Homo sapiens: one gene and its partners. The protein of the gene in region 2 interacts with the protein of the main gene of each other region in a biochemical or structural test. Each region holds a gene or a part of one and is shown on either strand. Other genes may lie near its edges. The genes, in order: PLD1, RHEB, RNF152 and RPTOR.

Region 1 (7,024 bases), on a different chromosome or scaffold from region 2:
AAAAGAAAAGCCAGAACTTACTTACCTGTACGTTAGCATGGACAGACCCAGGCACTTGATATCTCAACTCATGGGCTGTTGTTTGAGACTTTGGAAGCAGAAAAGGATAAGAAAGGGACCGATATTTTGATTTCATAATCTAAAATAAAGAAAAAGGATAAAATATTCAAATGAGAAAAAAGATTCATTCTCCCTACTTTGTGATTATAAAAGAAATTCATGCCCAGGTGCAGTGGCTCACGCCTGTAATCCCAGCACTTTGGGAGGCCAAGAAGCGGGGATCACTTGAGGTCAGGAGTTCGAGATCAGCCTGGCCAACACGGTGAAACCCCCATCTCTACTAAAAATACAAAAATTAGCCAAGCATGGTGGCGGGCGCCTGTAATCCCAGCTACTCGGGAGGCTGAGGCAGGAGAATCACTTGAACCTCGGAGGCAGAGGTTGCAGTGAGTCGAGATTTCATCATTGCACTACAGCCTGGGTGACAAGAGTGAATCTCCATCTCAAAAAAAAAAAAAAAAAAAAGAAAAAGAAAAGAAAAGAAATTCAGGTTAATTTGAAAAAGAAAAAGAAAAATGTTAATGGTGGACATTTCTAAGTGAAGGGCTACAGATTATTTGTGTTTGTTTTCTACTTCTCACAGTCCTGTTTTTACCTTTTGTAGGGGAAATATTGTTTTATATTTGTAAAGACAGGTTAAATATAATCTGTAGTTACAGAACTTTATAATTGCAAAAATGAGACTATTGTTTTATAAACTAATTTTTTACTGATTATGTTCTAGATATCTTGTCACAGCAATATAGTGGGATATCATTATTTTTAATAACTTCATAGTAAAATGGTATAAAAGAATCATTTGTTTAATAAATTCCTATTAGTAAGGATTTCTGTTATTTCTAATTTTATTTGAATTATTAGAAGCCATATCAAAATAAATTACCTTATTGGATTATGGCTTTAGTTTGAATACCCGGAAATAGTTTTTCTGGATCAAAGATTGCATACTTTAAAAAAGACTTATTGGTGTTGTACAAATTTATCCTCCCTGGGGTAGCATGTATGAGCACACCACAAAAACCACCCCAAACCTAACTACAGGTATCAGCAGAGACTTTTATCTTTGCCAGTATAGCAGGTTAAAAGTAACACCCCATTTGTTTATTCATCCATCTCCCCTAAATTTTTGTTAAAAAATTTCAATTAGAATGTCCACTAAATTTTTATAATCATTATGTGAATGAAAAACAAAGTTAGACTCTAAGTGGTTGATAAAACTAAATTCTTTTTCCAAACGACCAAGGGGAATCATGACTCATTATCCCTTCAAGTAAATAAAGTGAAACTTTAATAACACCTGAATATGTACTTTTTTTTTTTTTTTTTGAGACAGAGTCTCGCTCTGTTGCCTAGGCTGGAGTACAATGGAGTCCTCTCAGCTCACTGCAAACTCCGCCTCCTGGATTCAAGTGATTTTCCTGCCTCAGCCTCCAGAGCAGTTGAGATTACAGGCACCCACCACCATGCCCAGCTAATTTTTGTATTTTAGTAGAGACAGGTTTTCACCATGTTGGTCAGGCTGGTCTCGAACTCCTGACCTCAGGTGATCCACCAGCCTAGGCCTCCCAAAGTGCCAGGATTACAGTCGTGGGCCACCGTGCCTGGCCTGAATGATACGTACTTAACTTATGAATGTTAGGTTTGAATGTTATGTCAAGTTCTTACAAGTAATGAGGACACAATCTGGATAAAAGGAAAATGGCCCCACCTTCTTAATACTTCTTGGTTTGCTCAGAACCAGCTCTCAGAATCCTGTACCAATATAAACCCAGTGCAATTCCAGTCCCATCCAACTGGATGGGACTTTAAAGCTCAAGCCCTCTCATCTAAACCAGGCTCCTATCCCCCTATAACAGCCCTGCAAATGACTACCGAGCCCAGGCTACTAAATGCTTAGTCAACACTGTGTCCAAGATGTTAACAAGGTTAAAATCAGGACCCACACAGCAGCACCTGTCCCTAGGCACTCTGAATTGTCTATGGTGTGGACATTCGGGAATGTTTCCCTTTTTTTTTGCCCAGATGCCCAGGCACCCGGACATCAATGCAGCCAACAGCAGAGCAGTGACACAGTTGTGGCCACAACAGTCTCTTCTTGCTACCAGCCTCCTCTAAACCTCTTCTCTAGTTAGGCCTGCCTCTCTTCATGTGGATAAATCATGATAGCAACATCCAAGTACTTTTGTGAAGTTCCAGCGCTGGATGAAGTGACGTGCCACATCACGAGCCGCCTTCCCGTGGACTGCAGAGGCAATGTCATGCCAGGGCATCCGGGGCGTGGAGTACCTGTCAATGAAATCTGCCCGGGTGCACCAGGCAAGGATCAGTCATTAACTTCAGTGTTGGGGCAAAGTCTCTCTGACTCCAACTATGAAACTAAAAGGAAACGTGGGTTAGTGCCCACTAGGTATATATTTCTTGGCTTGCATAGAACAACATTTTTATAATCAAGGGAAACAGATTTCACATTCAGGGACATAGTCTCCCAGGCACTTCCCCACATATGTTTCCGTTTCACTTAGGATTAGATAATCACTAGACATGGCAAGATGTGAGTTGGTACAAATTATCTAAGGCTGTGTATTTGATATTATATTTTTTATTTTTTATCCTGTTGAAACAATGGCAGGCAATGCCATCTCTATCTCCTCTTAAACATATAAACCCAGTGATAACCTGAAAATATGCCATTCTAACGCTGGAAATGCAGGAAATAAGCAGAATAGAAGATGATCAAAGGGAGCCTACCATTTCCTGAAAAATTACTGATTATTGCCCCCAAAATATGCCTATAAAAATCTGGATTTTTCAGACAGTTCAGCTCTATTTCATGTTCTTTTCTTATTATAACTGAAAAAAAAGTCCTTAAGCACATGCTAATGACTAAATCTAGTCTCCAAAGTTTTAAAAAATTTTCAAAAATCAACGGAAGCAAAACAAAAGGCATTTAGATCATGCACATGTATACTTGCTGAGATGTTCAAAGGTAAAAGACAAAATATAACCAGCACCCCACCATTATGATACTCACCAGCAAAAGGTTTATCAAGTTGAACCCAGTCTTTGAAGACGAAATTGCAGTAGTCCTTTCCATGCCAGAATCTGGTTTCCCCATGCAGCTCTCCCACACCTGTCTGTAAACTACGGATGGACCCGGTATCTGTGAATGCAGCAAGACCCCCTCAGAGACTGTGGTTCAGGTGAGTCCCAGAAAGGGAGGCTCAACTCTCATTTATTAAACACCTAAAAGCTTCTTAATTTCTTAAGACACAACTAGGGTGGCATCTGTCCATTCTATTACAGGCTGTGGGCTAACAAGGTTTTACAGTCCTTACAAGTTTACTTTTAGTGGGCAGTTAGGGCTACAACAAGATTCATCATTAAACAATGAAATTTGACCTTCTCAGGCAGTTGAGTAACTTATTTCCACCACCTACCAGATCACTGGAAGAACTATCACAGAATTAACTGTGAATAAAGAACTCACAAGGTGGCACTATGAGAGCAGTAAAGCTGGTGGGGGGCTTTCAGGGGCAGAGTGGGAAGGGCGGGGAGGGGAGAGGTGGAGAAACCTGAGACGCAGGGGCAATAAAGACACCATGCCACTTCTTTTTCCTCAACCAACATGGTGCACACCTGATGCATAATTCTTTTGCATTAAAGCAAGAACCTCAAATTTACAGATAGCCCATGTTCCAGCCCTGGAATTAATTAGCTAAGTGACACTGAGCTTCAGTTTTTTAGATCATAAATCCATTATGCGTAAAATGAAGAATTTGGCCTAGATAACAGCTAAAATCTGTTGCGCTTTAACATTTATATACTTCAAATCATAGATGGCATTTATAAAAAATATGGTAACAACAGATGAAAGCTTATGATATAGGTGCAAAAGCAGCAATCTACTATAGCATTTCACAAATAACTGTGCCGAGACCATTGACTTACGGCTAAATACAAAGACAATGAAGTAAAAAGATGCAGAATTACAAATCACAAACGCAGCACTTGGCACAAAAGAGGCATTTAACAAATAGACACTGAATGCAAAAATATGTGTTGAATGAATAAATGGTACTGCTTGCAGTAGCCAGTGAGAGGACTACACTGGTCCTGCCACCAACACACTGTCCCAGAACTGTCTTTGTAAAATGCACTCTTTGCTTAAAACCCTGGAAGGTTCACATACTGCCTATAGGAAGCTCAAGTCCTAAGGGCTTAGTGTGCATAGAAGACTCTTCCCAAACTGGTGCCAATCTATCTTTCTAGTCCTTGTTTTTCCCCACCCAACCCCAGGCCCCATGCAAATCACGTGTTTCACTGTATTATAACAGGTGTGGACTGCCATGTCTCCATGCAGTTGGCACATTATTACTTCTACCTGAAATGCTCCTTTCTCCCTCTTGGCCTGATATCCTAATCATCCTTCAAGAGCCACATTAGCTATCACCTGCCATCTCCCCATAAGGAAGAGGCAGTCACTAGCACTGCTGTCATCCCACTAACAACTGCCCCAACACCTCTGACTCTGTGACGCAATTGTATCAGGATGCTCCCCTGCCCGCATCAATGCCTCACCAGTCTATAAACTCTTTGGGAGTGGGAACCAAATCTTCTCACTGCCAGTAGCTCCAAGCACCCAGGCAATCAATAAATATTTGCAGAACAAATGTTTTTATGTAATCACCACACACAATGCTAATATTCTATCTCAAACTGAATCATTAACCTTTCAAAGGCTATTAAAGTTTTCTACAGAAGAAAAATGATTTAAAATGCCATAGATTAGCAAAATGAAATCATGTTAAAAATAGACTTCTATTGACTTCTCCCAGTGATTTATTTTCCTGCTTTATGAGACTGAAAGGCCAAAGTACGGGTAGGTCTGTTTGCTCATCTATAGGCTCTTTATTGTTTACATAGCACTTTGTTAAAAGAAGAAAAGAGGGTGAGAAAAGAAACAAAAGGGATGAAAAATGAGATAAACAATATTTCAAATTTCAAATATAAAATACACATATACAATTTGCTTTCATCAACTGCAAAACTCTAAGCTAAGGCTTTACATAAACACATATACACTCATTTAAAAATTATCTTTCACCTAACAACCAGTTATGATAAGGAAAATAAAGGAAATTCTTAGTCTCAGGAAATTATCTTGGTACTAATTGAATTCAACCTGCTCATAATTCAAATTTGTTTTTGTTTTTAGCCATGGCCTAAAAACTATTCCACATAAATTAGGGTTCCTCCTCAGTACAAATGAACTATTAAGGCAATAGAGCCAAATACTAGTTCCTGTGAAAACAGTAGCTCAGAATTACATGAGTGTGGTCGAGAGGACTTATGGCATCAACAATGCTGATCCAAGGGGGTCTCGTTAGGCTGCTATCTGGCTCCCAAATGATTTCATAATTGCACCTGCCTTGTCTTTTGGCACAGATTTGTCAGGCCAATTTTCTGCATCCTCCTCTGTCAGTGGCTCAGATTCTGGCTACTAAAGTTTATGAGAAGGGGGACTTCTTGTTCCTTGCCTGGTGTCCTCTGGTCGTGCCACATCCTCCTCCTTCTATTCTCATCTCTCGGCTTCCAGGTCTCCATTTTTCTACCATTTCTCCAGCCTATCCTTGTTCTTCTTTCCTAGCTCCTCCTCACTAACAAGGTTTCCCCCTTTCTCCTGTCTTTTTGTTTTCTTTTTCTTCCTCTTTTTTTTTTTTTTTTTTTTTTTTTTGAGACTGGAGTGCAGTGGCACGATCTCGGCTCACTGCAACCTCTGCCTCCCAGGGCCAAGTGTTCAAGCAATTCTCCTGCCTCAGCCTCCCGAGTAGCTGGGATTACAGGCGCACACCACCATGCCCTGCTAATTTTTGTATTTGATAGTAGAGACAGGGTTTCACCATGTTGGCCAGGCTCATCTCGAACTCCTGACCTCGTGATCTGCCTGCCTCGGCCTCCCAAAGTGCTGGGATTACAGGCGTGAGCCACCACACCCGGCCTCTCCTGTCTTTTTCTATACAATTTCTAAAATGTGCACCTGCAAGGATGGCTTCTGTTTTGGACTCCAAATCTAAGGTCACTTCCAGTGCCTCACTTGACATTGTTTACCTAGTTCCCTCCAGAACTTTAAAATTATGTCTAACACTAAAATCATCATCATTCCATAAAATCAAGTCTTTCCTTGAGATTTCTGCTGTCTGTGTGTAGTAACTCAAGCTCAAACCTCGGAATCACCTTTGGCTCCTTTATTCTTCGCTGACTTCTCCACCCACCTCCCCACGGCTTCCCAGATCATGATGAAAATCTGCTGATTCTGCTTTTGGAAAAAGTTTCTCCCATTTACTTCGTTCTTGAACTCACTGACACAACCTTGTCAGACTCCCTGTGTCTCTACTATAAACGCTATAAAGCCTCACCCTTAATTGCTCCCTGCCCCTAGGGATTTTCCAACATTTAATGGAAGAGGTGCAATGTCTCAGTCTGATTTTCAAAGTCCTCCGTAAACTGCTACAGATATATCCCACCAGCTCAATCTGCACAAATCAGCCCTTAACCACAATTCCAAAACTCCAAAAGTTCTAACAATTCAAATGTTTTTTCATAGCTGATTTTCACAGCTCATTTCATAACTCACAGGTCAGCAAAATCTGACCTGAACTGACAAGAGGTTATTTATTATCTTTATTGATCCCACTTGGTGTTGCACAAACATAAATGGTTTGCCTACATTCCAGGTATTTCCTGGATCCTGCTGGGAGTGTAATATAGTAGAGGGTATAGGTATTGTATTACCTTTCTAAAATCCAGAACTTTCTGATTTCTGAAATCTGATTCCAAGGATTTTGTATGAGAGATTATAGACCTATATGTATTTACCACATTCTACACTCAGTCTGAGATGCCGAAATAAATACTTTTGCATTTCCTATATCTGGGTCTTAAGATGTAGTATCTACCTAAAATG
Region 2 (7,499 bases):
CTCCAACCATTTTGCCTGGCCACTGCTACCAGCAACCTCAGGAGATTGCTGGGCTTGGCAGCCTGCTGCTGGTGAAGGCTCCTACTAGGAACATCCTGGTCTTGGGGATGGGAGAAGCCAACTTCATTCACAGCCCAGCAGAAACCAGATTTGAACTTTTAATGAAACTTTCTTGAAAATTTGAGGACAGTTAATGTGTTAGTTTCCTATAGCTGCCATAACAAAGTGCCGCAAACTGGGTGGCTTAAAACAAGATAAATTTGTTCACAGTTCTGGAAGCCGGAAGCCGGAAATCAGTGTCAGAAGGGCCGTGTTCCCTCTGAAGTCACTAGGAATGGACATTTCCTTGCCTCTTCCAGGTTCAGGTAGCCCCAGGAGTTCCTTAGCTTAAGACGTCACTCCAGTCTCCACCTTGGTCTTCACGTTGACCATCTCTTGCATGTCTGTGTCTCTTCTTATGAAGATACTAGTCATACTGGATTGGCCTACCCTACTCCAATATGATCTCATCTCAACTAATTACATCTGCAATGGCCTATTTCCAAATAAGGTCACATTCTGAAAGGGTAGGACTTCAACATATCTTTTGGCGGGGGACAAATTCAACCTGTAACAATTGAGAACAGTTGAGAACAATTTACAACTACTGTATAACCCCAGACCTGTCCTCAGAGTTCTTTGCTGAGCCAGCCCTCTCTCAAACATGCCCTACCTGCATGGCCTTAGGGCTGGCTTACTCCACATTCCCTCTTCTGGGAGGACTCCATGCAACTCCATACCTCAGAGTTCAGACCAAACTGATCCCGTATGTCAGAGAGGGCAGGATTTACCTTCCTCCCAGTGAAATTCAGGGAATTCACCTTTCCCAGGATGGCTTTCATCCTACAACGCTGCGGACAGGACAGTCAACTCCCCACCAAGGAAACCCCTCTTCCATCCACAAAGGACCTGCCCCTTTGACTCCAATAAGATGACCACATAATAGAATAACCTTTGCATGCATTGTTTGATTTGGAATGACACCAGTGTGAGACATAACAGTTCAGTCTGATTTGGCTTATGCCAAGATCAAGAGGATTCTGGTTCTTCTCCATTCTTCCCTCATCAAATATTTTTAAAAACCAAACCAAACCACAAAACTCCTTAATGTCTACTTTCATTGGGGTCACCCTTTTCCACATAAAAGAATGTCCTTTTGGTAAAAACAATCACAGCAGTGGTTTTTTACTCTGACCTTGGTGTAACCCAGTGGTAGGGGGAAAAGGTTTTGTATGTTATCTCTGGTACTTAAAACAAATATGTTGGAACTAGAAATCAGATACTGGGCTTGGAAGTGCTCATGGAAAGTTAATACAAACCCCATAATATCAGATGTCCAAATTTCAAAGAACTTCCATAACCACCAGCCGTCAGAGGTGTAGGTCAGCAGAGACCCCTCTGGACAATCTACATGCTTAGCATGAGCTCCTCACTCAAGGGATGATGGGAATTAACAGAACCGATGATGTTCTCTCTCTGGGAACTTAACAGAAGACACATAGTTCTTAGTTCGCAGGGAAAGGGAACAGAAGTGGAAGTACACACAGAGAGAAGGCAGCAGGCTGAGGACTCGAGCACTCCCGAACAAGCAGGACCTGCTGAGGAGAAGCTGACTGGTGGCAGCAGACCTTCCAGCTGCTGCAAAGTCAAAGGTGACTGAGTTAGCCACCAATAAGGGAGCTACTTTGAATACAAAAGCAAGTCCATTTCTTCCAACACTGTTGCTGTCTGGTTGCAGTCAGGTATTTCCATGTGAATTCAGACAATGAGTCCCTACTATTTTAGGTAATCTGAGCCATTTCTTTTTTTTTTTTTTTTTTTAAGACAAGGTCTCACTTTGTCACCCAGGCTGAAGTGCAGTGGCACCATCTCAGCTCACTGCGGCCTCGACCTCCTGGGGTCAAGTGATCCTCCCACCTCAGCCCTCCACGTAGCTGGGACTACAGGCAGGTTCCACCACGCCCGGCTTTTTTTTTGTATTTCTTTGTAGAAACAGCTTTTCTCCATGTTCCCCAGGCTGGCTAAGTCACTTTTCAAACCAAACAAATTCTCCCCACTCTAGAATAAAGGAATCTTCTAAACCTTTGGATCCTACATTAAAGGGCTTGAAGACAGCAACTGGAAAACTTTTTTTTTTTTTTTTTTGAGACAGAGTCTCACTGTTTTGCCCAGGCTGGAGTGCAGTGGCGCTATCTGAGTTCACTGCAACCTCGCCTTCCAGTTTCAAGCAATTCTCCTGCCTCAGCCTCCTGAGTAGCTAGGATTACAGGCATGTGCCACCACGCCTGGCTAATTTTTGTATTTTTAGTAAAGACGGGGTTTCACCATGTTGGCCAGGCTGGTCTGGAACTCCTGACCTCGTGATCCGCCTGCCTCGACCTCCCAAAGTGCTGGGATTACAGGTGTGAACCACCGCGCCCAGCCTGGAAAACTTTTTGAATGAATTTGTCCTTTACAACTGTGCTTCACATCTGGATTACCAATATTCTCAGGCTAGGGCAGTGCTTTCAAACTTTTTGAAGCAACCCACTGTAAGAAACTTTACAATGAGGCCGGGCACGGTGGCTCACGCCTGTAATCCCAGCACTTTGGGAGGCCGAGGCGGGCGGGTCATGAGGTCGAGAGGTCGAGACCATCCTGGCCAGTATGGTGAAACCCTATCTCTACTAAAAATACAAAAATTAGCCAGGCGTCGTGGCGGGCGCCTGTGGTCCCAGCTACTCGGGAGGCTGAGGCAGGAGAATGGCGCGAACCCGGAAGGCGGAGCTTGCAGTGAGCCGAGATTGCGCCACTGCACTCCAGCCTGGGCGACAGAGAGAGACTCCGTCTCAAAAAAAAAAAAGAAAGAAACTACAGTAAATCCCAACATGCAATAATACATATATAGCATATCTATAAACATATATATCTACACGTGCACTTACACAAACTTACCCTTACTCATTTTTTTAACTCACCACTGTACTAATGAGGACACATACTTACCCTTACTATGCATAACGCAGTTTTCTATTCTGTTCTATTTTTTTTAAAAAAAGGTAAAACTAAACTGATTTTATAATGCAAGGAATTTAGTAGCATCTGTTCAAAAACACCGTGGTGAGGGTATCCGAATCCACAGGATAAAAACGACACATTTTACAGGAGAGTGCATTTTAAGACCTTTATTTTAAAATACTTAAAATAACTATAGCGTAAACCTCAACATTTCATGGAAACATAGAACTTCCAGACATTGATCACTTCTGGCTGGCTGCCTGGGGCTTCCATCTGTAGATCCCCGAGGACAAGAATGCACACCCCAGCCCCTCATCGGAGTGCTTCCGTGGGAAAGCTGGAGGGAGTCGCTCTTGGGTTGGGTGTTCCAAGTCGACTCCAGTCACCTCTAAACCTTCCTACGCTGGAATACAAGGCCTGCCACTCAGCTTCCCCTGGCTTCATTCCTCCCCACCGATCACTGGCAAAGGGCGAAGGGCCATGCCCGGCCTCTGCAGGTCCCCACTGCCAAACAGCCTGGGCAGAATAGGGGCGGGTTCCCCGGCGCGGCGGAGTCTCTGCTAACTCGGCAAGTGCCAAGCCCTCCAGCAGCCACCACGCCGGGCCTGCCTGCAGGCTGGTCCCTCAACGGCACCTGCGTTCCCGGCCGGGCTTCCCTTCCCGCGCCCCTCTGCACTGCACCCCTGGGAAGGCTGTGCCCACACCACGGTCTCCGCCCGTCCACACCGCGGCCCGAGGCGTTCCTGGCACCCGGCTCGGGCCTGCCCGCCGCACCAGCCGCCCCGGTGCTGGCGGAGAACCGGCTTCCCGCCCCGGCGCTGTTCCAGGAGGTGCGCCGAGCTCCGCGCGAAGCGAAGCGGACACCAGAACTGACGAGGCTCGCCCTGTTTTTAATGAAATTCCTAACACTTTGAATTAACGCAGACTCCATGCTTCCCACAGTCCTTCGGCCGTCGGTGACGCTTAGTCACCACTACATCCTCAAACCCAGACACGAACGCTAACGCAGCTCAAGGAGAATTTTCAAAAAACCCCGAGGGAGGAGCCAGCCCACCCGCCCAGGCCACGCGCCTCGCGCCCTTCACGGGCTCAGCGGGCGCGAACCCGCCAACCGCTTAGCGTTTCGCCAATCACCGCACCTCCCACCTATTGCCCCGCCCTGCGCTCCGTTCTGGCCAATCACCAGGGAGCCACCGTTTGTCTCTCCGCCTCTCCCGCCCGCCCCTAACCGGTTGGAAGTTTGAAGCCTTCAAACCTAGCCGGCGCCCAACAGCGCGGTAGCAGCGAGGTGTATTTTTAGCTCCCGGGCGGGCAGCCCCGCCCCCCCCTCCCCGCCTCCTTGTTTCCCCCAATGGGAGATGGAGTTTCCGACACGTCATCGCGCGGCTGTGCAGGAGCTGTCCAATCGGCGCTCGGGGAGAATGGCGTAATTAAAAAGCGGCGGAAGAAGGTGGGAGGGTCATGACGCAGCGAGTTTCAGTCGTGACTTTTCTGGGGGCATCGCGGCGTCCCCTTTTTTTGCCTTTAAAGTAAAACGTCGCCCCGACGCACCCCCCGCGTATTTCGGGGGGCGGAGGCGGCGGGCCACGGCGCGAAGAGGGGCGGTGCTGACGCCGGCCGGTCACGTGGGCGTGTTGTGGGGGGGAGGGGCGCCGCCGCGCGGTCGGTTCCGGGCGGTTGGGAGCGCGCGAGCTAGCGAGCGAGAGGCAGCCGCGCCCGCCGCCGCCCCTGCTCTGTATGCCGCTCTCTCCCGGCGCGGCCGCCGCCGATCACAGCAGCAGGAGCCACCGCCGCCGCGGTTGATGTGGTTGGGCCGGGGCTGAGGAGGCCGCCAAGATGCCGCAGTCCAAGTCCCGGAAGATCGCGATCCTGGGCTACCGGTCTGTGGGTGAGTGGCCGGTGGCCGCGCGGCCTCCTCGCGCCGCCGGGGCCTCGCCTGGGAGCCGGGTCGCGGCCGGGCCTGCGAAGTTTGGAGCCGGCGCGGCCATGTGGCGGGGCGGGCGGGGGCCGCGCGTTTCGTAACCACCATTCTGAGCGGAGGTGGTGGCGGTCGGGGCGGCGTCCGCGCCGGTGGAGGAGCCGCGGTAGCTGGGCGCCCTCCGCGGGCCGGGCGGGCAGGTGGCGGCCGGGCGGAGGGCGTGGGAGGCGCGGGGCGGGGGCCGTCGGCCGCCGAGGAGTCCGGGTCTCGTCTGGGGAAGTGAGGCGGCGCCGGGGAGCCGCGCTAGAGGCTGCCGCGAGGGAGTCACACCTGCCTCCCCGCCTTCGCCGCGGGCGCGCGTGACCGGGGCTGGCGGTCTCCCCCACCCCGCCCCCGATGTAAGGAAAAGAAAGTCCGTGGGATTTTAACAAAGGAAGCAGCGCCTCGGCTTCATTCCATCTGTGGTGAAGTTTACCCTTGTAAAGAAAACTAGGGATTTAGAGGACGTTTGGGCACTGAACGCAAGTTTTCTGCATAGGAAACCTAGGCGATCCCCCAAAAGAGGTCCCTCTGGAGGCCCTCGAGATGCTGCTGGCGGCCTGGGTAGGAAGACAGAGAAAAAGGAATGTCTGATCTCTCGGTGCCCTATTTTTGTTCGGGAAGGAATAAGGTCAGGTACTTGCAACCAGGCTGTTGAAGTAATTCCAAAGTCTTTTTGTTTTCTTTTTCTTCCCCCAAAAGGTTGACATACATTTGAAACAGTTCCTAGCAGTCGCCTTATTGCTGAATAAGGTGGCTTAGGGTCGGGTTGGGGGGCGGACGGGGTGTTACAGAACGAGCGGTTTTCTGGCCTGTGTGAAACCAGAGCGATTGAACTTAGACACGCTTCAGGGTGAGGCTGTATTGTCTCCCGACATCCGGAAGCCTGGAGAAATTAGTTCATCTTTTCGGGCTGTTTTGAAGTAACTGTCTATAGAAGGCGTGCACCGGGCCACAGTTGAGGGGATGGGGAGGTGAAAGCGAGGGTTCCGAGGCTCCCGTGATTGCGGAACGGGGTGACTATCTGTCATGGGAAGCTTGTACCTGCCTGCCGCTCACTGGATGCACTCCCCAACTGCGCTTTCCACCGCCTGTGCCAGGGTCTGTGCTCTTTGACCAAGATCAGCCACTGCATGCTTACTCATCCTTTTACCACCTCTCCGTCGAGAGCCGGGGGGAAATTAAGGGCTGAAAGAAGCTTGGCTAGAGATGCGGGGTGCCTAGAGTCGTAGGGGAACTCTTGTGCGATGCGGTGCTGAATCCGAGGGGATGCATAGGTGGCAGCTTTAACAGCTGCAGCCAGGAAGTAACCATGAATCAAATGGAGGGGTTCAAAGTCACTAATTGTTCAAATATCAACATGGAACCTGGGATCCAGCCTTTATTGGCAGCCTGAATCCATGCTCTTGTCTCTGTTCTCTTGATTTCCTCCTCTGCATTTTGAGGAGTTGGGACCGCGAGGTGTTCTGGCTCTTGGGTGAGCCTTCCCTAGTCAGTCAAGTAAGTACTTATTGGCAACTATTTGGAAATAGTAGTCCCTGAATAATCACGTTATAGGCAACAAGTACCTCGGCTACCTGATTTCAACCCAAGAGAATGACCTAAAGATCTTGACTGATTTACCCTTTTCAAATGTCGAAATGGTAGCTCTAGTCTTTGGTGAGCAGGGCTAGTTTTATCACTTTTTTTTTTTTTTTTTTGGCTACAGAAGTTCCTTATGTCCAGTTGAAATCCATTCTGTTTTATCTTCCCTCTATTCAGCGTCCTCCTGAGGACGGAGATGTGACAGGCCACCCCTTAGCCTTGTCCTCACAAACTGTTGCTTGTTAAATACTGTGCTAACTTAGTCTCCGGTGGGATACAGGGTCACTTTTAGTCCCTATTTTCTGTCTTCAGTATTTCATATTTCTGCAACCTACCCCACTTCTCCATATTTATTTTCAAGCGTAGTCATATTAAACGATTTTGGAGAGGTTAAGTTGCTCCCAATCTTGTATTTGATTTTTTTTTTTTTTTTTTTCCGAGACGGAGTTTCGCTCTTGTGACCCAGGCTGGAGTGCAATGGCGCGATCTCGGCTCACTGCATCCTCCACGCCCCGGACTCAAGCGATTCTCCTGCCTCAGCCTCCAGAGTAGCTGGCACTACAGGCGTGCACCACTATGCCCGGCTAATTTTGTATTTTTAGTAGAGACGGGTTTCACCACTTGGCCAAACGTCAGGCTTGTCTCAAACGCCTGACCTCAGGTGGTCCTCCCACCTTGGCCTCCCAAAGTGCTGGGATTATAGGCGTGAGCCACCATGCCCAGCCGCATTTGATTTTAAAGTGTATTATGAGCCAGGATATTTTGTAGTATGTGGGGTCTTTTTTAGGGGAAGGAGATTAGGTTTTGCCAGCAGGTTTCTTCTAGTAAGCCACCCTTTTGAGAATTACTCAGCATGCTCACTTCTGGGAGCTTACTGGCATGTTTGCTTGCAAATGGTGGTGCTGTACCAGAGAAATTTGAG
Region 3 (7,024 bases), on a different chromosome or scaffold from region 2:
AACACAGTCATGAAGAGCATCAGCTCATACATAAACACACTCAGATACCAGCACAGGAAACCCAGAGCATATCTAGATGCATGCATTTTCAAATGAGTGATGGAAGGGCCCAGAAGAGTGAGGCGCAGACTGGTTCAAAGCCCACAGTGTTCAGCCCCTCAACCTGTCCTGGAATGCATGTCTCAGAGGCCTCTTGCACTTCTCTATGCAGCTTTCAAAAATATTTCTGAAGAATAAATTGATGCCACCATTTCAATAAGTCTTTACTGAGTGTCTACTGTGTACCGGGCCCCAAGCGGCTACCCCTTTTTAAGAAGAATTTCTAAAAGGTTTCATTAACTTTATATTTATATTGTATAGCCTAGATTCCTTGCCTTTATTAAACAGTTCTCTTCTTTTTAATAATAATAAATATCCCATTCCAAAAAGCAGATTCCTAAATAAAGGGGTTGACAAGGCTACAATGTTTTTTCCCATTTTATTCTGCCCCGCTTGCTCCTCTCTTGTAGGATGGTTGTATCTCTACTAACAATGTTAGATCTCTACAAAGCCTGCTTCAGGATGTCAAACAACAATCACAGAACAAGACTGGAGGGTGACCAGCTCATCCCAATTTTTCTGGGACTGTTTTAAAACGGAAAGTTCCATGACCCAGGTATGCTCTTAGTCATGGGCAAGTCTGGGGGTCACTCTACTCCCAAGAAAGCAGACCCTGAGAAAGAGGATGTCCTTCATTTCACTTGGGAAGAGTGAGGCCACAGGAGAAAGGCGACTCATCTCCTTTAAGGAAGACTCAGGTTGCCTGGGGGCTAGCTCAGAACCCTTTCTCAGACTCCTCTCCTCCAGTTGCTTCCAGCTTTTTCCCCACTTCCTCCTGAGAAGGCCTATCATTTTAAACTCAGAGCCACTGAAAGCTTTACAGACTTTCAAACCAAAGACTCTGACAATAATGACAGGTAAAAGAAACTCCCATGTAAACGCTGAAGGCTGTAGTTACTTGGATGCCATCACCTCCTTGGCTAGCTTAAGGGCTTCTTCAGGTTAGACCATGCCTATTCATCCCGATATTTCCAGAACTGAGCCCAATGATTGGTGGATGGTAGATGCTGGATATAAGGACGTTAGCAACAGCTGCCATTTATTTAGTCTTACATTGTGGAGGGCAACACACTAAGCACTTTATATGTAAGTCTCTCCTGTTCTTACACTAACTCAATGAGGTCGGTTCTCCCCCATTTTGCAGCTGAAGAACAAACTCAGTCAGACCTTGTGCACTCAGGTCACGTGGCAGACGTGAAATTTAAACCCAAACCCATCTTACTTTTTAAAATTCCAGTTCATAATGACTTACCTGAATTAGAGCCATGTAAGGCAGGCATATATGCTAAGGTATCAAGAATTGAGAGAATATCAGATACATTTCTTTTATTCTCTACCCTTTTAGCTTTGCCATTACAAAAAAAAAAAAAAGCAGAAAACCAAATTAATTATGAGTTAAATACCTACAGGAAGCTAGAAGGCAGGGATTTTTTTAGAATTATGCCTGGTAAAACATAGGCATTCAACATTCTTTTGTTTGTTTGTTTGTTTGAGACAGTCTCATTCTGTCGCCCAGGCTGGAGTGCAGTGGCACAATCTCAGCTCACTGCAACCTCCACCTCTCAGGTTCAAGCAATTCTTCCTGCCTCAGCCTCCAGAGTAGCTAGGATTACAGGTGCCCACCACCATGCCTGCCTAATTTGTATCTTTTAGTAGAGACGGGGTTTCTCCATGTTGGCCAGGCTGGTCTTGAACTCCTGACTTCAGGTGATCTGCCTGCCTCAGCCTCCCAAAGTGCTGGGATTACAGGCGTGAGTCACCATGCCTGGCCATTCAAAATACATTTAATGAATGCAATTGTTTGCCTAATAAGTGGTTTAAATACCTGATGCTCAGTGTTTCAAATGCTATTTTACACACCACCATAGGTGAATGGATGGATCTGTACCTTCAGTTTCTGAAGTACCAATGTAAAGGAGTGGAGTGGATGGACTATTTATCCCAGTTAAGGACACCTCTTTACCTGCATGGTTGAATTAACTATTACTCACTTAAAATGGCAGTAATCTTATGTCTCATGCAACAAAAGGGGTAAATTCTCCAAAGTACACAAATTTGTCCATGTGCTCACCAACCACTTCTAATCTCATATTATTAATCTTCGAGGAAGCAATTTGCAAACCTACCCCAGAACAACACAACTGCAAAAGAATATCACAACAAATACTTGGTTCCTGAGACACTTATCTCAGCCCTATTCACTACCTTTCAAACTGAGAGTGTTTTGTTTGTTTGTTTGAGACAGAGCCTCGGTCTTTTGCCCAGGCTGGAGTGCAGTGGTGCGATCTCAACTCACTGCAACTTCTGCCTCCCAGGTTCAGGCAATTCTCCTGCCTCAGCCTCCCAAGTAGCTGGGATTACAGGTGCACACCATCATGCTTGGATAATTTTTGTATTTTTAGTAGAGATGGGATTTCACCATGTTGGCCAGGCTGGTCTCAAACTCCTGACCTCAAGTAATCCACCCGCCTCAGCCTCCCAAAGTGCTGGAATTACAGGCGTGAGCCACCACGCCCAGCCGAGAGCGTTATTTTAATATTAATGTATTTCTGGTCATTTTCTTCAAGCAGCTGAACATATTTCCCTCTTTCATAATAACACTCTCATAATGATCAAGCATTTTGAGTATCAAAGAAGAGTTTCTATCATGTGAATGAGTATTCCAAAATCAAAAAAAGGGAGGTAAAACAGATGTATATCACAAAGGTATTGAAGCCTTTAATTATAAACGCAGGTGGGGCAGTCAGCGGTGGGCAACTACACCCAGTCATCACAAATCCAGGCATCAATGCCTGCTCCGTTAGATTGTGGGGTGGTCTGGTAGGCTGTAAAGTCCTAAAGCTGCTTGTTGTATGTCACCAAGTAGAGGTTTTTTTTCTTTTGCTTTCTTTTGCTTTCTTTTTTTTTTTTTTTTTTTTTTTTTTTTGTGGGCAAAGTAGGAGGCAAATGGAAGTTGAAAAACAGGCTTTGAGTAACAACTAATTTTGTTAGAATCATGACCCTCATTGAGAACATTCACCTCCCAAACATTGGTATACGTACTGCAGCCTGGTCATTCTAATTTGATTCAACATTTAATCATTATTAATGCAAGTAGGGGAAGCTCTTAAAAATAAGTTTCTATCTTCTTAACTTCCTTTAAGACTTCAAGCTAAAAGGGTCTAAAATTCCTTTAAATCACTGTAAGTCAAAATCGTTTTCTGTGTTGTCAAAGAGTCACCAATGATTTGTTTATTGAGCCCTTCCTGTGTACAAACACGGTGGCAAACACACAATGGTGTAAAGCCTCATCCAGTCATCTTTAAGGAGCTTGCAAGAGAACTGAGATCTCTTTGAGTGCCTATACAACCAATCTGTTTTTCACTTTCAATACAGTATTCAATAAACTACATGAGATATTTGATGCTTTAATACAAAATAGGCTTTTTGTTACATGATTTTGCCCCCATTGTAGGCTAATTGCAGGTCACAACTGCTACATCAGCCAGCCACAGGCCCCCTTGGAAGGAACTGTGCCCCCAACCCTCTCCTGCACTAAGCAGGTCCAGGGTGAATGATAACTGGAAGGGTCCCATTCACTGGAACTCTTGGGAAATGTGGCTTGATGACAAGACATCCTGGGACATCTCTTCAATTCACCTCCCTTTATGCAAACAAGCTTGAGTGAATTTCTATTCTTTGCAATTAAACAGAAAGAAAAAGACACTTCAATCGTAGGTGATAATACAAGACAATCTATGACAAGTGGCCTTTGTAGAATGAATGAATGAATGTTGAATGAAATGAGAGATGGAGGCAATTTTGCCAGAGAACTTTGGATTATAAAGAATTTCTAAAGGCTAATGTGATCAAGTTAAATTTTTCAGAAGAGTTGAGAGCTGAACTGAGGCTTCGATGATAGGATAGAGGCAGAGGAAGGAAGAGGACATTTTAGGCCACAGAATGTGCTAGAATAAGAAAGAGGCAATGAAAAACATTTTGGGCAACAGTGGATTAACCATCCCAGCTAATGTTCAGTTTTAAAGTCAGGCGGAGCAAAAGTCGAGGTTGGAAAGGAAGTTTGGGGTCAACCTGGGGAAAACTTGAAAAGCAAAACTGAAGAATATGAGCTTCCTCCCACAAGGGCAACTAAAAGTTATTAAGTGAGGGGATGAAGGATTAATTGGCCTAATGGTCTAAGAGTGACAGCATTTTCCAAACTGGAGTGGGGTGGGAAAGCCAGAAAGTGAGCAAGACCATTGTCATAGCCCAGAGAGAAACAAGGTTCTTGACTAAGATGCGGCAGTGGCAACTGTCACTAAGTGAATCTGTCAAGGAGCAGAAACAGCAATAGTAAGAAGAATGCTCCTGGCTAGGTGCGGTGGCTCACGCCTGTAATTCCAGCATTTTGGGAGCCCAAGGCGGGTGGATCACGAGGTCAGGAGTTCAAGACCAGCCTGGCCAACATGATGAAACCCTGTCTCTACTAAAAATAGAAAAAATTATCCCAGTAATCCCAGCTACTCGAGAGGCTGAGGCAGGAGAATAGTTTGAACCCAGGAGGCAGAGGTTACAGTGAGCTGAGATCATGCCCCACTGCACTCCAGCCTGGGTGACAGAGTGAGACTCCATCTCAAAAAAAAAAAAAAAAAAAAGAATGCTCCCTATTTCTACAGTATCTGTCAAAGCTTTTACCAAAATCTCTTCAATTCTTGTCAAACCTCAGTGAGGAGTGCACCAAGTGTGATTATCTGGATGTCTAGATCAGAACTGAGCCGGGAAAGTTACACTTCCTTGGTAGGTGGGAATGCGATAGTGGCAGGGGAGAGGAGGTTGTAGAAAGAGAAAATACAAGCACAGAACACAGCATTTGGAGATTCTACTTCCTCATAACTTTGCTCCCACCAGCAGCACATCTTCATTTGCTCAGCCCCTCCTTTGCATGAAAGGCAGGTAACCAGGAAGTCTATGTGATGTTTGAGTAAGTTTCATCATGCAGGATGTTTGCAATGAGTTTTATTTATGCAGGCATTAGTATATCAAGGGGTAAATAAGGCATCCTCTCCACTCCTAGGCGATCACAAGCAGCCCCCTCACAACTCCACGAAGAACGTAGTCCAGGCCTTAGCAGCCAAACGTGATCTAGGCCAAGAAATCATGGACATCAAGAACCACCCAAAGGAGATGCAGGTCACAGATACACTATTTGAGGTCTCCCTCTTTAAATCCTACAATGACAGTGAGTCAATTAGAAATTGAAAATCCCTAAGCATGTAACAAGCACAGACGGTTCCCTACTTACAACTGTTTGACCTATGACCTTTGATTTTTTGACTTTACAATGGTGTGAAAACAATACACATTCAGTAGAAACCGTACTTTGAGTGCCTATACGACCAATCTGTTTTTCACTTTCAATACAGTATTCAATAAACTACATGAGATATTTGATGCTTTAATACAAAATAGGCTTCTTGTTACATGATTTTGCCCCCATTGTAGGCTAATGCGCATTTCTGGGCACAGTTAAGGCAGACAAGGCTGAGCTATGATGTCAGTAGGTGTATTAAATGCATTTTCCACTTACAATATTTTTAACTTATGAGGGGTTTATGAGGATATAACCCCACTGTAAATTAAGAAGCATCTCTACCAACTTTATCCCAATTGTGATTTCAATCATGGAGTCAGACTGCTGGATCACACAGTGTAACTCTCGAAGCCATGGGAAAAGAAGCAGGAAAACCAACACCTTCTTCCTTTCCGGTTTCCATGACGTCACAATGGGCAGTGCCAGAAACCACTTTCATGCCACAAGAGTCCTCTACCTGACCAGCCGACTTGGGTATGAAATTAAAGTGGTAGGGACCCAGAGGCCAGAGAAAATATAGAAATGCATTTTGGGGCTTCCCAAATATAGTTCAAGACTAGTCCCTCGGGGCTTTCATTTTCCTTCTCCCTCAGTCTGTGCCTGGCCCTCAGCCCAACCCCAGGCACCCTGAATGGGTTTTTGGATGGTCTATATCTGGTTCTTCCTGCTGGTCTCCAAGCTGCTCATCTCCCAATTCAGAAACGCTTTGGGTGCTACATCTTATCACTTGAATGAAGCCGGGTGGTCTCAACCTCCCTAGGTTGATACTGATATCCCCTCAGTCACTGTGACTTGGAGACTAACATAGTTTACCACACCACTTCCTTATTTGGAGAGCTATCTTTATAAAAATGACTTTGCCAAGGTGATTACTGAACCAAAAGCAATATTATTTTGTTAAATTCTACACTTATGCTTAAGGTATTTATCAAATCTTTAAAATGGCTCACCCGTGCATGCCGTTATCACAATGTGAACAAAGATATATGAGTGAACAGCTCTTCCCAAAGCAAAATCTCTGCAAGCCACCAACTGCTGAATCCAGAGCACCTTGCAATGCCTATTCCATAGCATCCAACTCTTTTTAGGGAGAGTGAGGCAAGGAAGGCTTTAGAACTCACCACCCTCCTAGTCAATACAGTTGCTGATGGAAGCACAAATGTCCCTAAACTCTCTGGGTGTTCTACTAGTCCTGTGACCAGAAAAAGCCTCTTGCCCAAATTGCTTTTTCTAAACATCAAAGTAACAAAAGGGTGACCCAAGGTTACCCTAAACACATTCCTGCCCCCTTCAGATCTTATCTGTTGCCCTGTGGTCTCTGCTGCAGGAGGCCACCTCCTGGGTGGCCCTAGGCCCATTGCCACTCTTTTTCTACCCTGGGCGGTTCCAAACAAACTCAGGAAGCCTTAAACAAGAGGCAGATGGTGAGGAAGAGAAAGTCTGTAAGTAACACCTCTCTATTACATAATGCTAAGCTCACAACCTCCTAGAATCAGCCTTGAAAATACCTAATGGCCTTTCACTTCAGAGTAAACATGCACTTGAAATAGGCAAAGAGAGGATTATAATTATTTT
Region 4 (7,024 bases), on a different chromosome or scaffold from region 2:
AATGCGCTAGGATTGGCTGCAGCAGGCTGCGTCTAACAGTCCCCAGACCTCGGAGCCACGCAAGCGTGGCCTTGGGATGGGCCTCGAGTGATCCTCACCATTAGGGAGTGGGAAGGCCTGTGGTGACCCTGTCAGTTAAGGCAAAGTGACACCTGTCACACTGGGAAGCTCCAGCGAGGCAGGTTTTCTCTTTTCGTTTGGCGACAGGAAGGTAAGTGAAGTTTGTTTCTTCTGCGGTTCTACCTCAACCGTGACCATCACTACCACGACCACAATGGGACGCTCCCACAGCCACAAGCCTTGAGCGTTTATGCTCAAAGAAGTGGGACAGACACATGTTCGCTAGGACTCTACTCTGAACCCCACACCCCGGGCGCACCTTCATGACGGGCTGGGCAAAATAGCGGGCGCTCCAGTCGCAGAACCCCGTCTGCACCGTGGCGGAGATGAAACTTTTGTGTCCAGCAGCATCGTCCGCGTCGTCCGCAGTCTTCAGGGTTTAAGCAGGAGGGTTGGAAGGAAAAAGAAACACCAGTCAGTCATGCCACTCCTGAGCTCAAAAGAGCTGCAGCTGGGGACAAAGGCGCTGCCGGGAGCACCGGGCTGCCCCTAAGGACGGCACTTCTGTGCTCTGCTCACTTCCGTATCCTGGTGACCAAGAACCCCTGAACGTCTGGCCAGGGATTGAGGGGCCCGGGCTGTGAAGTGTGAGCCACGTCGGTCCCACCATCCCCAGGGCCGACCCAGCACAGCTCCCAAGTCAATTCTAACTGACTGTTCAGACAATGCCACGTGCGTCCATGTGTGCTGGTTTATCAACCCCCAAAAAGCCTCTGCCGCTTGGTTCCAGGACAGCTCCTGTGATGGCCCCGTGACACCAGACTGAGAGCGGGGACTCCCATGTGAAGTGGCCTGGACGGAGCGCACAGCTTTGCAGGCCGGCTGGAGCTCCCAGCTACTGGAGAAAGAGGATGTGGAGCTGAGGAGGACTGAGCTTTGGGTGTTTCCTGTTGTGGAACCTGTGGCGGCCAGGGCTGTCAGAGTCTGTGTGTGCTTGTGGAGTGAGGCTGGGCACCAGGGGTCTCCTGTGCCACGCCATGTGGCCTGCTGGCGTCTCTCACGCTGTGTCTTGGCACAGGGAGCTCCCCATGATCTCAGGGCAGGTGCAGTGAGAGGTGCATCCCCCCCACCCCGGGGGGTCGGGTGGGTGAGCTGCACGTGCCGGTAGCATTGCTCCCCAGGGCCTGGCCAGGAGGCTGACCCTGCACTTGGGGCTCGGTGGTGATTCTCGCTCCTCCTCTGCCGAGACACGGAAAGTCCAGGTGGGCTGGGGCTGAGCAGCACCTGTGGGGACCTGTCCGCTCTTGCCGTGACAGCTCTTCTACCCCAACATGGCCGTTCCTGCTCCAGGGCATCCTGCAAGGCGGCCGCTAACTTCTTTTAAAATCACTGGATTACCAAGCGAGCCCCGGACCCCACTCATTGCTGAGATGATCATGCTGTCAGCACCCAGAGCAGCTGGGTGTGCTGGGTGCGCCCTGAACCACCTTCTTGAGCCCAGGTGCCCTCAACTGACAAAGTGGCAGCACCTGGACGAGACAGCCGAGGTCTCCGGACCAGCTGCCACCTCACACCACTCTCATAACCCTGGCAAAACAAAGCAGGCATTCCTCTCTCCAGAAATATCTTTTTCAACTTAGTTAAAGGCAAAGAGAGTGTACCTATTTATGCAGCGTACTTGGATGTTCACAGAAAAGACAACACATTCAGAACAAATGCTCTGCAGTGCAGCTGCCCCCAAGCGGACGCAGAGTGCTGTGTGCCCAGGAAGGGCAGAGCCAGGTAACTCCGTGCTCCTGTTTCGTTACATGGAAGCTGCCCAGAATGGTGAAACCAGAACCAGGGGCGGAGAACCGGGACACACCCAGCAGTGCTCCTAAAGAGTGCAGGCAGAGGGACCGGGACACACCCAGCAGTGCTCCTAAGGAGTGCAGGCAGAGGGGTGCACGAGTGAGGACCAGCACCCGGGTCTGCAAAGGCAGAGAGTGGCCCACAGACCCAGGACGGCAGGGTGGGTCCTGCCCCATCCCATGGTGATGTGAGCAGCCTGAGGCTGAGGCCATGAGCCCCCATCTGAGAAGCAACGCTCTCAGTGTCCAGATCACCAGGCAGCCGGGCTCCCGTACCTGCTCTGGGCCCTTGTCGAACATCTTCCGTGTCCGGGGGAACTGGTGGGAGTGAGGGGTGTACTGCGCCCCAGCGGGGCCTGTGGTGCCCGGCCGGCCAGAAGGCAAGTCTCGGCTGACCGGCTGCTTGGCCACATCGTTGGTCAGGCTGGAGCTGCTGGTGCTGGACGCCGGAGGGGAGCCCCTGCCATTGGAAGAAAAACAAACACTGCATCCTCTGCAGAGTCTGGGGCTTCGAGAGGGAACATGGAACAACTTCCTGGGCCACCTGCACCCTCCCAGGTGCCACCAGGGCCCGGGGTGTCCTCAGTCACCCAGCATGCCATCATGGCTCCCGAACCCCAGCTGCTGGTGCCGAGTCCATGCTGCTCGGTTGCCCGCCTGGCAGGGGGCAGGGTTGTCCCTCATTGAACTCCAGCACCCTGGGAGGTGGCGCGGACAGGACGAACCCAGCTCAGAGTCGAGTGGGCCGGGATGTGCGAGCTCAGCACACAGCAGTGCCACGTCCTGAGGTGCAAACACCTGTTGGTTACCCATTTGGAGATCTAGATCCCCTCTTACAAACTCTGAAAGGCCACAGAGACCAGGCTTCATTCAACTTTTGCTGAGATGATGTGCACATGAAGGGTTCCTCAAGATGGGGAGAGCTCAAGGCAGGGCTCAGATCAGGCGGGTACCGGGGTGTCCGGGAGGGAGAGGGAAAGAACGCCCGCTGGAGAGGGGGGAGGAGACGAAGCCAAGACAGGGCGGGGAAGGAGGAGGATGGGGAGGCCGGCTCAGGGACAGCTCAGCCCGTGGGGCCCCGGTCACCACCACGGACCTGCAGGCTGAGCGGGCGGCACTTACCCCGCCTGGTGGATGTGCACGCCCTTGTTGGTGGGGCTGGCGGGGGCCGACTGCGTGAGGGAGGAGGTGTCCAGGACGCGCTGCGGCCGGGCGTTCACGGTGGCCTAGGGGCAAAGGAATGGGGGTGTGAAGGTCAGACGGGACGTGCTCCGCGGAGGCCGCCACACGAAGCAGAGGCTGGCGTGGAGCCGCTTCAGAATCACAGAAAAGGCCTTTGGCCGAGGAAGCACCAACACCAATGGAAGGCCCCAGCTGGATCCCCCGCAAAGGCAATCCTGAAGCTCAAGTGGTATTCTTTACTCTTGGACATGCATCCACTGGGCTAGCCCTGGCGTGGCCGTGTGAGCCGGGATGTCTGGGGAGGAAGCTCTGCCTGAGGCTCCTGAGGGGTCAGGGCCTGAAGCCTCTGAGATGGATGACGGCCCACCCTCCTCACCTTCCCTGCCAGAGGGGCGGCTCCTGGCGGCCTCAGTGTCCTCCCCCTTGCCTGAGGCTGGGCCTCCACACTGTCCCAGCCTTGAGTCCAATTCTCCCCAACACCTCAGCTCTCGGGTCAGAGGCTGCGAGTTGAGGCCCGGGAAGAATCCACCAGCCATGCTCTTTCCGGAGCCGGGCGATGTGGCATTCACGGAGGGTCAGGGAGTGCTTCATCCACCCGGGACCTGGCCGGTGGGCACGGGGTGGAAAGCCACCAGCAGCCTGAGGCCTCCACGCAGGCCACTGTTTACACCCCCGTGTGCTTCAGGAGGCCACAGAAACTGTCAGAGAATGACTGCAGGGGGCTTGGGCTCTCTCCAGTGGCAAAATGGGCTCTGCTGCCTGGACTGTGACGGGGCCTGGAACTCAAGACCGCCCTTAACATCCTCCTGGCCGAGGGGCTGTGGTCATCCTTTCCCACGGGCGCACGCAGGTGGTGCTGGGTGCACTGCATGGACGGGGAACCTTCATCTCCAGGGCAGACATGGCTGAAACCTGCCCTGGGGAGGGGCGCACTGGCAGGGGAAGGGGATGGCTGCTCCCGGAGGGTGGGGAGCAGGGTGGTGCACAGCTGGCACAGCCTAGTGGGCAGCATGAGGCTCCAAACCACCCCTTCAACCCAGCCGTCTGTGGATGAAGCCAAGACCCTGGGCTCTGAGAGCCTCCTGCCACAGACACCTGCAGGGCTTGAAATTCTACCACAGAAAAAGATTTGTACCAGCTTGAGCCCTGGCATTCAGGAGGCAAGAGGTTTTGCTTTTATTTTTTAAAGCAGGGTTTTCTGTGGATCTGGAGACCAGCTGTCGGCGTTAGTGAGCAGCCGTGAGAAACCACGCAAGGCAGGGCGTGCGCTGCCCGGCCACCGACATGACCTCGCGAGGGCCCAGGTGCTTCGGGGTGGTTTTGTTCTGAGTACACTGCTCAGTGGGGGGAATGCGGGTCCCGCTGGGTTCTGGACTCCAGAGGCTGTGCGCGTTCAGAAGGGGCCTGATGGTGCTGGGGCAACCTCATCTGTGTCAGGAGGATGGGGCCAGCTGCTCCATGAAGGTGCCCACTGATCCCGCAGGCACAAGCCATTCCCTGAGCGCCGGCCCATCCCAGGCTGCGCTCCAGCCAGACAGAACCCTGTCCTTCAGGTCCGCATCCGCGTGGAGCCTGCAATGTCTCATGCTTTTAATTATTCACTTAGAATTTAGGAACCTTGAACCTGCAATTCAGCCAACAGAACACCAAGGAAAACAAAACGATCCTGAAGTCTTCACTCATGTAACACCCACGCTTCCCAGATTGTCCTTTCCTTCAAAACGCAAATAGCAAGAAAATGGAACCATAACTTGTCTTTAAGCAACGTTCCTATTTTTTAAATGACAAGAGTAATACATGTTCTTTCTGAGCTTGTTTTGTTTTGGTATTAAACTATTCGGCCAGCCCTAGACACATACAACCATCCCACAGAACCTGCCAGACATATGATCCCTTCAAAAGTCTAAAAAGAGAAAAGCAAGTTTTCGACTGTGAACTTTATATGTGCCTTCTCAAAATGTCTGGAAAAACAGTGGGAGGTGACGGGGAAGACAGAAAACTTCTGGAGTTGAAATGAAGCCTTTAGCAAAACCCACACATGCTCAGACGCTCACGGAGCACAAAGGCTCAGGCGCTGCTGGGCTGGGGCCGGTGACTCAGGAGCCCTGGGACGTCACGCTGAGCCGCCTGGGGTCTGTGCAGCTCCCGCCTTGCCACCCTGCACGGAAGCGCCCGTGGGAGTACCGCATGGAGCCGTGGTGACGAACCCTCTGCTCTGCCCACTCTTCCAGGCAGGGAACTGATCCGGGCCTCGGCATGAATTCTCGCAGCCCCTGGGGTTATAAGATGAGACCATCCTGCTTTCACATGGCTTGTACCTGGGGCTGCTGTCACAAAACTAATTTTCCACCACTTCTGGAAATCTCGTGAGACAGACACACACCTGGATCAGGAGCCCCCCCCACCCCCATTAGTGTAGTGACCACAGGGGGTTGGCCTGGAGGGAGCTTTCTTTAGCTGTGCACTTCTTATTTGTTCAACATTTACTCAGCGTTGATTGCGCTGGGTGTGGGGCCAAGATTGTGAACATGAGTAGCGTGTCCCTCAGAGGTGACCTGGCAGACCTGCCTGCCTGCGGTGTCGGTGTGAGGACAGGGTACGCAGCGAGCAGGAGCTGCAGAGCTGGCTGGGGCAGGGGCAAAGGCAGAGGACCAGGGAGAGTCCTTTCTGCTGGTCCCTGCCACCATCTTAGAGAGCGCAGCACCAGGAAGGGTGAACAGAGAGGGCACGGCAATGGCAGAGGCTGGGTTTGGAGATGCAAACTGGAGGGCTGAGTGCGGCCCGCACAGCCTCTGTGGGCCCAGGCCTGCCTGGAGGACACGGCGCCCTTCTCAGCATGTACACCCCCAGAGCCCCGGCTCACTCGCAGCCTGCAGAGGTCAAGGGTGTGCAAACATGCCCTCTAGGGAGGTCTGCGTCCAGAGAGGACGGCAGCTGTAAGAGGGTCAAGGTCCCGGCTACAAGACAGGGCCTTTCTTCCACTCCCCAAGCCAACCTTCGGTGGTGGCAGATACGACTTTGCTAACAGTCGAATGCTCAGCACAGACACTCTCTTGGGCCAGTGCGCACATGAACACGCCTGGAAGATGGAGGTGCAGGTGTCTTTTATCCACCCCCGACTGTTGCAGCTGCTGAAGCGGGGACTGGAATGAGACCCACCCTGTCTCCTGTTCCGGGAGCGCCACCTCACAAGGACACGGGGGCGTCTGATCCAATGCAGATGAAAATACCGTACATTTCAGAGACTTGGACAGTGAATTTTCCCACTGGATCTTGACACAGTCAGGGCTGCGGATGCCAGCGTCAGCTTCTGGCTGCTCTATCTTGGGAGGAAGTGGAGTATTTCAGAAATGTTCCTGTTAATTTTATATCGAGGATCTGGATTCATGTGTGAGAAACTCTTAAAAAGGGATTCCCAGAGGATTATCCAGAGGCACTTTTGGGCTAAGAATAGCGCAGAGGCCGCTGGCTGCTTGGTGGGGGAGAAGAAACCCCTGCAAAAGCGTGTGCTGCTATTTCTTCAAGTCATTTTCCTGCAAACTGCGTTTCCTAGATAAATCCTACGAACTCTTCTTTTGGAAAAGTAAGTCCTAGGTATTATTCCATTAAAGCAACGTGGTGACTCTTAACAAGATGCCCATTAGTTACAAAGGAAGCCTTAAGGAATTTCACTTGGGGCCACGGTGCCCTCAGTCCTAGGCGCTGCGGGAAGAGAACGCCGCGTCAGTGGAGGCCGAGGTGTCTCAGCCCACCAGCTCCTTCCCTCCTCAGACCCGGGTGTGTGGGAAGGCTCGGGAGGTTCTGGAGTTGCTGTGGCCCCTTTTCCACAGAGGATGGTGAGATGGCCAAGGAGCTGATGGCGACATAGACATGAGTGCTGATGATGCAGCTGGCTGTGTGGAGCCCTCTCTGCACCTGGGCGGCACAGGACA

What was found.
Region 1: the proteins of RHEB (region 2) and PLD1 form a complex in vitro, tested with the Homo sapiens proteins (one study listed by BioGRID).
Region 3: the proteins of RHEB (region 2) and RNF152 form a complex in vitro, tested with the Homo sapiens proteins (one study listed by BioGRID).
Region 4: the proteins of RHEB (region 2) and RPTOR form a complex in vitro, tested with the Homo sapiens proteins (one study listed by BioGRID).

Annotation. Positions count from the first base shown.
Region 1 is NC_000003.12:171,674,475-171,681,498, forward strand, and holds part of PLD1 (phospholipase D1), read right to left. Parts: intron 3,221-7,024; coding exon 3,092-3,220; intron 2,360-3,091; coding exon 2,241-2,359; intron 140-2,240; coding exon 26-139; intron 1-25. UniProt on the Homo sapiens protein: Function as phospholipase selective for phosphatidylcholine. Implicated as a critical step in numerous cellular pathways, including signal transduction, membrane trafficking, and the regulation of mitosis.
Region 2 is NC_000007.14:151,516,885-151,524,383, reverse strand, and holds the start of RHEB (GTP-binding protein Rheb), read left to right. Parts: upstream 1-4,488; 5' UTR 4,489-4,872; coding exon 4,873-4,924; intron 4,925-5,406; exon of another isoform or gene 5,407-5,624; intron 5,625-7,499. UniProt on the Homo sapiens protein: Small GTPase that acts as an allosteric activator of the canonical mTORC1 complex, an evolutionarily conserved central nutrient sensor that stimulates anabolic reactions and macromolecule biosynthesis to promote cellular biomass generation and growth.
Region 3 is NC_000018.10:61,882,989-61,890,012, forward strand, and holds part of RNF152 (E3 ubiquitin-protein ligase RNF152), read right to left. Parts: intron 1-7,024. UniProt on the Homo sapiens protein: E3 ubiquitin-protein ligase that acts as a negative regulator of mTORC1 signaling by mediating ubiquitination of RagA/RRAGA and RHEB.
Region 4 is NC_000017.11:80,918,836-80,925,859, reverse strand, and holds part of RPTOR (regulatory-associated protein of mTOR), read right to left. Parts: intron 3,137-7,024; coding exon 3,033-3,136; intron 2,371-3,032; coding exon 2,187-2,370; intron 491-2,186; coding exon 380-490; intron 1-379. UniProt on the Homo sapiens protein: Component of the mechanistic target of rapamycin complex 1 (mTORC1), an evolutionarily conserved central nutrient sensor that stimulates anabolic reactions and macromolecule biosynthesis to promote cellular biomass generation and growth.